2 separate regions of the Homo sapiens genome follow, and region 2 is linked to region 1. A link means that fine-mapping ties the variant in region 1 to the expression of a gene that starts in the linked region. Tissue or cell type: whole blood. Region 1 holds a variant in brackets; the other region holds the start of a gene. All regions are shown on one strand. Distances are between the middles of the regions.

Evidence for each region. PIP is the estimated chance that this variant, and not a neighbour inherited with it, causes the effect.
Region 2: TNFSF13 starts here. The variant in region 1 is fine-mapped to the expression of TNFSF13 in whole blood (TOPMed, PIP above 0.99).

The regions. Positions count from the first base shown.
Region 1 is chr17:7,425,641-7,428,392 of GRCh38, reverse strand. It overlaps SPEM2 (SPEM family member 2), which reads right to left. Exons shown (of 3, transcript NM_175734.5): 1 at 2,567-2,752; 2 at 2,343-2,400; 3 at 825-2,205. The coding sequence starts at 2,704. The coding sequence ends at 896. Among named protein-coding and RNA genes, the nearest start is that of SPEM2, 1.4 kb to the right of the region's middle. RefSeq lists an enhancer at 1,341-1,842. The variant G/A (reference allele first, on the strand shown) is at 1,422.
Region 2 is chr17:7,557,601-7,560,100 of GRCh38, reverse strand. It overlaps TNFSF13 (TNF superfamily member 13), which reads right to left and starts at 1,351. Exons shown (of 6, transcript NM_003808.4): 1 at 804-1,351; 2 at 399-477; 3 at 208-255; 4 at 1-52. The coding sequence starts at 1,061. It overlaps TNFSF12-TNFSF13 (TNFSF12-TNFSF13 readthrough), which reads right to left. Exons shown (of 11, transcript NM_172089.4): 7 at 399-477; 8 at 208-255; 9 at 1-52. It overlaps TNFSF12 (TNF superfamily member 12), which reads right to left. Exons shown (of 7, transcript NM_003809.3): 7 at 2,220-2,500. RefSeq lists enhancers at 1,303-1,352, 2,163-2,222, 1,808-2,500.

The DNA.
Region 1 (2,752 bases):
TCTTTTTTTTTTTTTGAGATGCAGTCTCACTCTGTCACCCAGGTTGGAGTGCAGTGGTGTGATCTCAGCTCACTGCAACCTCTGCCTCCCGGGTTCAAGTGATTCTCCTGCCTCAGCCTCCCGAGTAGCTGGGACTACAGGTGCCCACCACCACACTCAGCTAATTTTTTGTATTTCTTTAGTAGAGACGGGGTTTCACCGTGTTAGCCAGGATGGTCTCAATCTCCTGACCTCGTAATCTGCCCACCTCAGCCTCCCAAAGTGCTGGGATTACAGGCGTGAGCCACCACGCCCGACCAAGACAGGGTTTCATCATGTTGGCCAGGCCGGTCCCGAACTCCTGGCCTCAAGTGATCCGGCCTCCTAAAGTGCTGTACAGGTGTGAGCCACCGCACTCGGCCACTCCTGCAGTTTCATTTCAGAATCCTGAATCCTTTACCTCTTGACCACACCAGAGACTGGGGAGACCTCCGCCTCAGAGCCTTGGGGAAGGCATGGCTGGAATCCAGAGCCTTGGCCTGGTCCTGTACCATGTGCTAAGTAAATCCCAAAGAGCTCCACTCAAGACACTGAGTTCAGAATCCAGACCTGATCCTTGCTGGAAACAGGGAGAATAAAGAGCCTGGGTGGTTGTCGTCAGCCAGTGCAAGAGCTACGTAGTGCATGGTGCAGACTAGGAGGGCCTGCTGGCAGCCGCGTGGCCACTAAGCCAAGGGGTGCCTCACACCAAGAAGGGGACACTGGTTTCTCATTTCAGGAAGCCAAGGGCAGGGACCCAGGCTGGCCGAAGGAGTGGCACTCCCACGCTACAGACCACCACAGTGTTTCCTGGACTCTGTTTCTCTTTATTCCTCTCCCTCCATGCCCTGCCCCACACCCCACATCCGCCTGCTGGTCAGTTGAGTTTCTCGGTCTGGCTCCTGTGCAGAGAGGGCCTCAAGGTGGAGGTGGAAGCCGGTGGCAGTGAGCTGGACCTGGCTCTGCTCTTCTGCACCTGCCGCTTCAGCTCCAGGCTGTCGTACACCTGGTAGTTGGCATTGCCCCCTGGATTCCGGCTGAGTGGGACAAACATGGTCGGGGGAGGGGCAGGGTCCGCAGCCTGGACTTTGGGCCAGGGCTGGGAGGAATGGGGGACCAGCACTGAGCTTGGAGCTGGGGTCCGTTGATGGGAGGCCTCGTCCAACACCGTGAGGGAGGCAGAGGTAGTCAGAGGACGCCAGGCGGGCAGAGCCTCAGCCCAGTCAGCTGCCCGACGCCGCACCTCACGGGGGTCCTGGGAGCTGTAGCCCAAGGGTTCCGTGGATGGGTGGGGACTGCGGTGGGACTGGCCATAGGCGTGACCAAGCAGGCTCTGCTGGTGGGACTGTGGGGAGTGGTGCTCCCGGCAGCCCTGGGCCTCAGGCCGGGCGTTCCGGGACACC[G/A]AGGCAGGGGGGCGCTCAAAGCCCTCCGTGCCACGACGCCGCTGATCCCAGGAGTCATACAGCATCCAGCCCACTGAGGGGTAAGGGCTGTGCCCCACGGGGACCCAAGAGGGGTTAGGGGGCAGCCGGTGGGGAGGTGGTGGAGACGAGGCCCACTGCTCAGCCTCCACATTGCCCCACAGTCGGGATTGGGAACCGTGGCGCCCATAGGACTGCAGCCTCAGCTCAGACCTGGCCTCTACACGCTTGGGCATGCAGCGCAGCTCAGGTGACAGGTAGAGAGAGGGTGGTGGCAGACTGGCCAGGATACCACCCTGGTGGCCCCACAGCCCCACATTGGAGGGCAGGCCCGCTCTCTGATAAAACCCGCCCCAGCCGCGACGTGGGTACTTGGGATACGGGAAGGGCAGGTTGTCCTCCTCCTCCAGGTAGGAATCCGGGTCCTCCTGATCAAAGAAAGGCACTCGGTGTAGTTGTGACATCTTTTGGCTGCGATGTGGGTTACGGAAGACTGAGTGGCTATGGGGGATTTGTCTGTAGTTCTGCGGCCGCTGCTGGTGGTTGCAGCAGCGACGGCGACAACGGCGGTGGCGGCGGCGGCGGCGACGAACACAGCGAAGAAGACTGCTACTGTGATGGTTGGAGAAATGGTGGCAGGAGAAAGAGGAGTACTGCGTGGGTCGGGACATCTTCACCTGCACAGGGTCCAGGATGCAGTGGATGTGGACATCCTGAGCCTTGTCTGGGGGACCACTTGGGGGACTTTCACTGGCCTGAATTTCATCTGGGGAAGGCAAGAGTCCATGAAGTCAGGGCAATTGTCAGAAGAGCTCAAGGTTGGGAACACTGGGGCCTGGGTTTCTAGGGCCATTGTCAGGGGTGGGGATGGGGGTCCCCTACCTCTCCAGCAGCCACACTTACTTTTCTGAGTAGCCCAATCAATCATCTTGTCTAAGGCGTTCTGGAGTCCATGCCACATCTGGGGCAGGGTGGAAGAGAGTGAAGGCCAGGCCCTCCGCGCCCAGCACCACCACCCCTGCCCCCGCCCCAATCTAGACCGCACCTGCAGGTGGAGATGTAGGCTGCAGCTGGCTCCCACCCTTGGCCCTGTTCACCCCCAGAGGTAGTCCACAATCATCACTGACCATAGTTGCCACGTTGATGCCAATGTTGACAAGAACGATGAGGCCCAGCAGCAGGAGTAAGATGTCCTCGGCATCGTGGGGGCTTTCTTGGTATTGATTGCAACATCTCACGGTGTTATGCCATAGCTGGTTTTCCATGGAGGGGGGGTCCTAGGGCCACCTGGGCCACCCCCCTCTGCCCCCCAC
Region 2 (2,500 bases), 130 kb before region 1:
CTCCCACGCCTAAGAGCTGGTTGCCACATCACCTCTGTCACATCGGAGTCATCTGGAGGTGAGAGTGTGTCGGTCAGGACTTCTTGGCACTCTCAGGTGCTTTTTGGTTCTTTCCCTTTCACCTATAAGGACCCCTTGAGCCCAAGTGCCAGCCCGAGTTCCTGGTTATTGCCCCTCCCCAAAGCCATTATTTAAAATAGTGCTCACCCTTGGAGGTGGCGTTAATGGGAACCAGGTGCAGGACAGAGTGCTGCTCTGAGGAGAGAAGGAGGGAATCTCAGCCGCATCCACTTTCCCCCGTTGTGCTGTTGGCAGCCTCCACCCTCACCCTGACTCGGGCTTACAATCCCCACGCTGCTTGATCACCTCCCACCCCTGCTGCACCCTGGAAGCCTCACTCTTCTGTTTTTGGGTGAGCACTGCTCTCCTTTTCCGGGATCTCTCCCCATTCTCCCAGGCTTCCAGGGCATCGGAACTCTGCTCATGGAAAGAGGGTCAAGGTTAGGTTAAGATGCGAGGGTCCCAGCCAGCCTGCCTTCCCAGCCCTCCCCTGCCCCCGAGATGCCTCAGATCTCTCACGCACCTTTTCCCAGCACCCTGAGTGTTGGTGCTGGCTGCCCTCCAGGATTTGTTAGGTATGAGAAGCATTAACCTTTAACAGTTTCCTTTCCTGGAATGGCCGCGCCCCTGACTTCCAAACCGGAGACCCTCTCTTGCACCCCCTTGAAACTTTGCAGACCAGGAGGCCCAGAGACCCCCCATGCTAACCATCCTCTCCCAGACACCCTCCTCCCCTCACTCACCTGCTCCGGGAGACTCTGCCAGGGATACCCTTCCCCATTCTGGGAGGGGCCTCCTGTCCCCTGCAGCCGGCTCACCTCTCTCCTGAGGCTCTGCAGCTCTGTTTGTTGGGTCAGCAGAGCCATGGCACAAGCCACGGCCCCCAGAGCTGCCCCCCAACTCAACCAGAGGGCAACTGAGAGTGCCGGCTCTCTGACTGGGCCCCCCATGTTGCCTGGAGGCCCTTTGGGGGCTAGCAAGAAAGGAGATGAGGCTGGCATGAGCTGGGGACCCTGCCAACAGCTGTGGTTTCAAGAGTGGGGTAGCAAGGAGGTGGCGGGGCGGGTAAGGGTACGGGCAGTGGTGCAGAAGGGAAGAAGGTTGTTACGCAAGGAGAAATAAAAAGGAACTTGAAAATAAAAAGGAGGGAGGAGGAAAGCAAGCTAAGGGTACTGTTAGTGCTCCTGGCACTCCGTCGTGGGGCCAGCGTTGCCTTGAGACCCTCCACCCTCCCTCAGCCTCAGGAGAATTAGGTTCCAGTCCCTCTAGGAAGGACAGGGCTGCCAGTGACACCCAGGAGGAACAGGCAGTGCGCAGGAACCCTGGGGCGGCCCCAGGGTTGGGGGAGGGAAGGTTGGCTGGCTAGAGGGCATTGTGCCAGGAGCAGGATGGGGGGCCAAGCTGGGCAGTGTCCAGGGTCAGGGCGAGGGTGGAAGACCCTCGGGGTCAAGCACAGCAGAGATCGCTGGGGCAGTTCACTAGGGGTGACTGAAGGTGGGAAAGGAGGGGTGGGCTCGATGGGGAGGAGAACCAGGGGCACGGAAGCAAGAAACTGGCTGAGTTCTGGGGTTAAGGCTGGGCCGGGTGTGTTGGAATAAGGCCTGCACTACTCCCTGTGCTGAAATTGGCAAGCAGGACTTCCTGTTTCCCGAGAAAAGCTCTTACATAAGGCTCTGGACGAAGAGACAAAGCAGCGGCCTCAAGCCCCCCGGCCACTGCGGGATTCCTCCCCAGCACACAGGGTTCCGGGTTCCCGTGTGCCTGCTGACTCTCAGCCCCTCCTCCAGGCTGGCTCCTGCCCGCCCCACCTCCCAGCCAGGGCCTGTGCCAGCACCTGCTGAATGTCCGAGGCCACCAAGAGGAAGGGCCCCTGCTCCTCCCAGCCAGGAAGGGATTTCCCCGCAGGAGGAAGTCTGCCTCCTAGGCCAAGGAGGCCGCTTCTGCTGTACCTTGGGCGGAGGATTGATTTTTTTCCTGGGCAGTGTGCCTTCCTACCTCTGCTCCCACCTGGGGGCTGGAGGCATGGAGGTCCCCGCCCCCAAGCCTGAACATCATCCCGGAGTTCCAGCTGTGCCGCTCCGCAACGCCCCCCTTCACGTGGCCCCCAGCTACCCTGAGAGTGTCCCCTGAGCCCCAATAAAGAGAGAGACTATGACTTATTCTATTTAATATCCATTTATCAACATTTTGTCACAATAATAATAAAAATAATATCTGTTTTAAAAATCCACAGGGAATTCTCAAGGGAGGAGCTTGTCTTGTTTCTCGCCCCTCACATTTGGGAACTCCTGGCCTAGGCCCAGTCTCTTTGGCTTCCTGCCGCCAGGTCCAGCCCCTCTTAGTGCCTGAAGTGGGGTCTTCTGGACCCATCCTTGCCCACAGAGTACAGTGAACACAATGCCCTGGGGGTCTGTGGCCAGGGGGGAGTCGAGATCACTGG